Linked DNA regions of Homo sapiens. The protein of the gene in region 2 interacts with the protein of the main gene of each other region in a pairwise test. Each region holds a gene or a part of one and is shown on either strand. Other genes may lie near its edges.

What was found. Proteins that work in one complex are often made in the same cells at the same time.
Region 1: the proteins of DDX24 (region 2) and PRF1 interact in a two-hybrid assay, tested with the Homo sapiens proteins (one large-scale study listed by IntAct).

What each region holds. Positions count from the first base shown.
Region 1 is NC_000010.11:70,599,942-70,603,952, reverse strand, and holds the start of PRF1 (perforin-1 precursor), read left to right. Parts: upstream 1-1,211; 5' UTR 1,212-1,308; intron 1,309-3,020; 5' UTR 3,021-3,050; coding exon 3,051-3,589; intron 3,590-4,011.
Region 2 is NC_000014.9:94,057,203-94,060,702, forward strand, and holds part of DDX24 (ATP-dependent RNA helicase DDX24), read right to left. Parts: intron 3,412-3,500; coding exon 2,896-3,411; intron 696-2,895; coding exon 620-695; intron 1-619. UniProt on the Homo sapiens protein: ATP-dependent RNA helicase that plays a role in various aspects of RNA metabolism including pre-mRNA splicing and is thereby involved in different biological processes such as cell cycle regulation or innate immunity.

The DNA of each region.
Region 1 (4,011 bases), on a different chromosome or scaffold from region 2:
GAAAGAAACTCCTCACAGCCTCAGCATCCAAGTCAGGCCATGGGTGACAGCTGGAAAGTGATCAGGAGGCTGCAGTTTCTAGAAGAGGGTGGGGACACTGCGGAGAGAAGATGGGGCCAGATTCCGAGAAGACAGCATAAGCCCCTGTTCCTGTAAGAGCAGGGACGGAAGCAGGGACATAAACGCAAGGGATGAGCCCCAAAGTGTGACCCATGAGACATGATGTCACATGTGGTCTGGAGCCTGCGGCCACTTCTTCCCATCATATACACAGTTATGAGAACAAGTTGTGAGAACCACCTCCTCCCTTACCCAGCTGCCCCCACCCCAGAAGCCGTGTGATTTTGCCCCCCAGTGCCCTGTGAGTCACTCCACCCATGGAAACCTCACCCCACCCTGACCTCAAGCAAGGCAGAGTGCAGAAGACATGTCCTCCGGTGCTACCAGACCACTCTCACCAGCACCCACGACCTCAGCAGGGCTGGAGCCAGCGTGGAGGCCACTGGCTGTCCTCACAAAGCGAGGAGCAGGAGCCCCTGTTCGAGGAACATGCTTGGAGTTCGGAGCCTGGGCTAGGGTGGGATGTAGGTTGAGCAGGAAGTGGATGGCAAGATTAGAGCAACATCTCTCTTCTCCCACTCAGGGAGGAGGGAATGGCCACAGGCTCTGACACTCAAGAAGGGCCAGGCACAGTTCCAAGCACTTCACAACAACCCCTAGGGTCTACATGACCTACAATCCCAATTGTTCAGTGAAGAAACTGAGGCACAGTGAGGCTGAAGAACCCTACCAGTCCACACTGCTGGTGCATAACCGAGCTGCCCAAGCCCCGGCGGTCTGGCGTGTAGGCCCATGCTCTGAGCCGCCGCCTCTGCTTGCCTCTTACATCCCACACATGCGATGCTGTGCATCAGAAGCAAGGAGATGGCCCTGCTGGCCTGTTCATCAACACCAGGGCCGAGTCTCAAAGTCCTCAGCGCCCCGCCCTCCTCCGCCTGTGTGCCCTGAGTCCCCGAGCCCCAGCAGCTCTACTCGGCAGATGAGCCTCTGGCCCTGCTGCTCGCTTCCTGAGGGCTGTCAGTGGGGAGCCGGATGAGGGCTGAGGACAGGGTGGGTGCTTGTGGGAGGGGAGAGCACAAAGGACCTGTGACCACAGCTGGGGGCGGGGCAGGAAGTAGAAGTGATGTGAGTGGTGGCTGGTGCAAGGAGCCACAGTGGGCTGCCTGGGGGGCTGATGCCACCATTCCAGGAGCCTCGGTGAAGAGAGGATATCCATCTGTGTAGCCGCTTCTCTATACGGGATTCCAGGTAAGGAGAGAGCAGGGATTGGGGGGCCTGGGGCCCTGGGTGGAGGGGAAGAGGCTGATGGAGCAGGAAGTGCTGTGACCTATAAGACAAGACACCTGGGTCACAGACGGTGCCCATCACTAACTCGCTGGGCAGCCCTGTGTCCACCCTGGGCCTCAGTTTCCTCATGTATGAAATGAAGAGGTAGCGTGCAGTTTCTAAGGCCCTGCAAGTGCTGACATTAAAGCTTCTAAGAAAGCTGGAAAGAGGCTCCCTGGGACAGAATACCATGAGAGTCAGGATGAGGGCTGAGTTCACTGGATTAGGGTTATGACTGTGCCCGCCTCCTAGCTGGGATGAGCCCAGGGCCTTTGAAGATTCCCCTGGCCTCTTTGCCTCCCTGGGGCGAGCCACGCTGCCTGAAATTCCACCCTTCAAGTCACACCTTTGGGCAGGGCAGGAGGCTCCAGCTATAATGGGGGCTCTCCATAGCCCTCTTGTCTCAGAACCTGTGGTACCCAAGGGCAAAGGCCTTTGAAGAGCTCAGCTTGGATAAGGTTAGGCTTGGGTAAGGTTAGAGAAAGGAGGTTCCAGATCATAAACAGGCCCAGGCAAGGCCCCAGAAACACCTTAAAATTAGGAAGAACCTTCCAGACAATCATTGTCCATAGTAGGCAATAGGGGGGCCCCTGTCACTGCCGAAGGCCACAGAGCTTGGCAGGGAGTGGCAAAGAGGGGAGGGGCAGCAAGAAAGGATCTGAAGAGCAACCATCGAGGCCTCTCCCCACACAAAATCCAAGGGTGTGGTCAGGTCTGCCCCTTTTTTTTTTTTTTTTTGAGGCAGAGTCTTACTCTATCACCCAGGCGGGAGTGCAGTGGTACGATCTTGGCTCACTGCAACCTCCGCCTCCTGGGTTCAAGCGATTCTCCTGTCTCAGCCTCCCAAGTAGCTGGGATTACAGGCACCCGCCACCATGCCCAGCTAATTTTTGTATTTTTAGTAAAGAGGGGGTTTCACCACGTTGGCCAGGCTGGTCTCGAACTTCTGACCTCCAGTGATCCACCTGCCTCTGCCTCCCACAGTGTTCGGTTTACAGGTGTGAGCCACCACACCTGGCCAGGTCGGCAGATTTTATTCTAGAATTCGGGCTGATGTTATTCCATAAAGCTCAGAGGGAGAGCCCCAAAGGGAAAATGAGAAGAATAGGTGCAATATAGGACCTCATTTCTCTTCCAATTCTGTTAAGGGCTCAGTGGGAGGGAGAGAGGTTAGAGAGAGTGACAGAGACAAAGAAACAGAGTGAGAGTCAGGGTGGGCAAAGGGTGGCTTGTTCTGGGGCCAAAAATGACACTTCTTCAGAATGAAGGCTTCCTCAGGTCCCCAGACCCCTCCCTAAACCTGCTACAGCTACTCTGTCCCCTCTTCTGTGGCCACAGCCCCCTCCCCACCACCCACAGTTGTGTCCTGGGGACAGAGCCATCCACCTAGATCCCCATTAGGCCTTAGGGAAATTCTAAAAAGGGGCTCCCCTTGGCTGGGCTTTTCCCCTCTCTGGGCCCATCTGTACAATGTGGGGGCTGAACCAGGCCTATAAGGGACATACCAGCTCTGACATTCATTGAATAATGACTTAAGAGATATCTCAGCCCCTCCCCTTCCATGTGCCCTGATAATCTGTGGCTGTGGGGGAAGGGAGCAGTCATCCTCCATCCCTCCACCCATGGCTTCCCAGAGCCCAAGTGCCCCCTGTCTCTGCAGCTCCATGGCAGCCCGTCTGCTCCTCCTGGGCATCCTTCTCCTGCTGCTGCCCCTGCCCGTCCCTGCCCCGTGCCACACAGCCGCACGCTCAGAGTGCAAGCGCAGCCACAAGTTCGTGCCTGGTGCATGGCTGGCCGGGGAGGGTGTGGACGTGACCAGCCTCCGCCGCTCGGGCTCCTTCCCAGTGGACACACAAAGGTTCCTGCGGCCCGACGGCACCTGCACCCTCTGTGAAAATGCCCTACAGGAGGGCACCCTCCAGCGCCTGCCTCTGGCGCTCACCAACTGGCGGGCCCAGGGCTCTGGCTGCCAGCGCCATGTAACCAGGGCCAAAGTCAGCTCCACTGAAGCTGTGGCCCGGGATGCGGCTCGTAGCATCCGCAACGACTGGAAGGTCGGGCTGGACGTGACTCCTAAGCCCACCAGCAATGTGCATGTGTCTGTGGCCGGCTCACACTCACAGGCAGCCAACTTTGCAGCCCAGAAGACCCACCAGGACCAGTACAGCTTCAGCACTGACACGGTGGAGTGCCGCTTCTACAGGTGAGAGCTGGGGCTAGGGGTGGGGGGCTGGAAAAGGCGCGGGAAACTCTGGGTGGTCTAGGAGCCCTGGAAAGGCAGAGTCCTCCAATCAAACTTGGAGGCTGCTTCCACCAGGAAGAAACTGCAATCCTGGCTCTCAGACTTCAGGTGATTCAGCCCTGTGGCCTCCTCTCATCCAGGAGGTCCCAAATCTGGGAGTGCCCAGTGAGACATCAAGTAGAGAGAAAGTGAGTGAGACCATGCCTGAGAGTCCCAGCAGGGTGCCATTTAGGTCTAGTGAGTACTGAACCCTGCCTTTCCTGGGCACAGCCAGCCTTCCACAGAGTCCTTCCTGGATAGGGACAGAGGCAGGAGACCTGGCCGGGTCATCCTTCCTCATCGCTGTGTGACCTTGAGCATCTCACTTCTCTCTGAGCTTCAAT
Region 2 (3,500 bases):
AGTCTGGCTCCGGTGCCCATACTCCTAACCAAAATTTTATGCTGATATTCACTAGATGCACACACTAATATTACTGCTACTATCAATGGCAGTTAACATGAGTAAGTGCTTGCAATGTGCCAGGTGGCTTCTTAAGCTCTTTATACTTAGTAACTTATTTTACCTCAGTAAGAACCCTAAGAAGCAGGTACTCACTGCCATTTAATACATGAGAAAACTGAGATACAGAGAGATTACATGACTTGTTCAAGGTTACACAGCTGGGATTTGAGCCCAGAGAGATCTAAACTACCACACTCTTCTATTAATACTTCTCTACATCAGGGTAACCAATTACATGCTTAACTTATGCCCATTTCACAGAAAAAACTAAGACTCTAACCTGACAATATCAAGTAGCTTGGAGAGAAGGGCTACTTGACATGAGACAAAGCAAGGTTTTCTGGAGACCAAATCTCAGCAGTGTTGCAAAAGTGGGAGTAGTGGGCACTCGATGCCAGTGGTATTCTCTGATGCAAGAGCCTTGGAACCAACAATTCCTCCTCCCTCCCCCAACCTTTGCCTTAAAAATTCCCCATTCAGTGCAGGCAGATGCCTATAAATTTTCAGATGCCCCTACCTGGTAATGGATGACATGCTGGACTTTAGGAATATCCAGACCCCGAGCTGCCACATCTGTTGCCAAGAGAACACAGCTGGGGTAGAGAGAGAAAGCTTATTAATAATAACTAACAGCTATCTTTAATCAAATTCTTACCAACTGCTGAGCATCCTAAACATTACAGTCCTTACCAATACTCTGTAAGATATCACTTGTATACCCTTTTACAGAAAAACTGAGGCTCGGAGAGATTAACTTCCCAAGCTATCTACATGGCTATTCAGCTGTGGAGTCTGGATCCAAATTTGGGACTCATTGACCCCAACCAACATGCCATACTCTGCAATGATAAAGACTCCCTTCAGTGAGTTAAATGAGGCCATACATATTCTGGGTCAGTGACTCCTCTCCTAGCACCCTCTCATTTACTTCCTCCCAGTGGCACACAGACTTCCTTGCTCTTCCCCAAACAAACCAAGCATGCTCTCACCTCCAAGCCTTTGCACTTGCTACTCCTTAAGGCCTTAAAGGGTCTTGCCTCAGATGTCCATATGACTCACTTCATTACTTTCTTCAGCTCTCTGCTCAATTCTCACTTCATCAGAGACTGACCACACATACCCAATCTCTTTTCTCCAACCCCTGCTCGACTTACTTCTTAGGATCACTTGGCAGACTGTGGGCTTACTTTGCAATTTATTATCTCCCTCTACTAGAATGTAAGCTTCATGAGAGCAAGGACTTTGCATTACTCACTGCTGTTATTACCACCACAGAGAACAACATCTGGTTCATGGTAAGCACTTGATAAATGTGTTGGATGATGTTTCTCAATGTGTGGTTCATGGAAAGTCAAAAGTACTTGAGGTGCTTCAAAACATAAGACTCTGGCCCTTCAGGGTCCTCACTCCCTGCATGTCTGAGCTGAGGCCGGGAAATGCAATGCAAATCCTAGTTTGTAAAACATTAAACTACTGCTCTGGATCAAGGTCAGCAAACTTTTTCTGTAAAGAGCCAGAGAGCATTTCCAGCTTTGTGAACCACACAGTCTCTATGGCAACTATTCAACTCTGCCGCAAAAGAGGATATTGACAATACATAAATGGGTCTTGCTGTGTTCCAGTAAAACGTCTACTAAAAAAACAGGCAGCAGCCAGGTGTGATGGCATGCACTGGTAGTCCTAGCTACTTAGGAGGCTAAGGTGGGATTGCTTGAGCCCGTGAGTTCAAGTCTAACCTGGGCAACATAGCAAGACCCCATCTTAGAAAAAAAAAGGGCAGCAAGCAAGATTTGGCACGAGGCCTATAGTTTGCCAAGCCTTGTTCTAAGCTAATCTCAGTAAACCACTGATACTACTTACCAATTTTTAAAAACCAGTAAATCAAACACTTGTTCTAGAAACTAATTACCCCATGACCTGACAAAACACTGGCAAAAGACACTTTGTAGTCTGCCTCAACTTTCCAGGCCCTCATCTTGACAATCTGCACCCCATTCCCTGAGCATCAGTCTGGTCCAAAGGCAGATGGACAAAGACATCAGGAATAAGAAATAGCATGGGCTCTGAGGTCCGACAGGCTTGTCTGAGGCCCAGCTCTACCACTTCCAGGCAGAGAAACCTTGGGCACACTGATCAGCTTTTCTAGACCTCATTTTTCCATCTATAAATGAGAATAGTGATAATGGTAATAAGTAGTAAAGGGACTAGAAATTATTAAAGCTAACATTTAGCAATATATACATACTATGTGCTAGAGACTGTTCTAAACACTTTACACGCATGAATTTACAATCAATCTTCATAACAACCCTAGAATGGGTTCTATTATTATCCAAATAATGAGAAAATTAAAGTACAGAGAAATTAAATAACTTGACCACCTAAGGAGTGACAGAACTAGGATTTGATTTCAGGCATTCTGGTTCCAGGATCTGTGCTCTTAACCATGAATCTATTCTGCTTCCTCTTAAGGATGTTAGGAGAGTAACTGAATGTGATTCTGAATCTAAAGTGCCAGCACAGGACCTAATCTATTGTCTATACATTCAATATTATGTATTGTCACCTATATTCATTAGTATTGAAGTTTCTGTATGGCATTTAACTGCAACCAAATTCACTAAATGACAGTAACCTTGCCAAATGCTGTGCAAAAAAAAAAAAAGGCTACCTACTACTGAGACAAGGCCCCTATGACAGAAGGTGGCTTTTCTACCATTTCCCCACCATCCTGACCCCTTTTACCCCAGTAACTAACTAGAGGTTAAGCCTCTGGGGACAGTCCTAACTTACTCTTCCAGACGGGCAAACTGCTCCAGGTTTCTGAGCCTCTGCTTCTGGTGCATACAGGCATGCAGGGTCAAGGGCATGATATCAAGGACTTTGAGGAGCCCAGAGAGGCGTTTGATGCAGGAGATACTGTTGGCAAACACTAAGCTGCGGCCTGGATACTGCATCAGGAAGTAGTACAAGTAGAAGTCTTTCTCATCAGTCTCACAATGGATCTTGGTCTCTGTTAGCGTCTCCACCGTGGCCTCATTCCTTGTGAGGTCAATGACCTTGGGCTTGCCCCTCATGCCAATTTTCTGCATAAGGAGGTCAAGTTTGGCTGTTTTATCCATTTTCTTGGTGTGCTTCTTATGAAGGATTCGAGCAGGAGCCTGATGCACCAGGGTGAGTGTGGCAGAAAAAACAAGCGTTTGTCTCTTTGGGTTGTATTGGGAGTCATTGAGCATCTCTAGCAGCTGTGAGAGCTCAGCAAAATGGCCTTTCTCAACCATCCGGTCAGCCTCATCCACTACCAGGCACCTGCAGATCCAGAGAGACCCATATCATTGGTCAGCAGCGGGTTAAGAGGAATCATCTATAGCACACCCTACACTCATCCTAAACACACA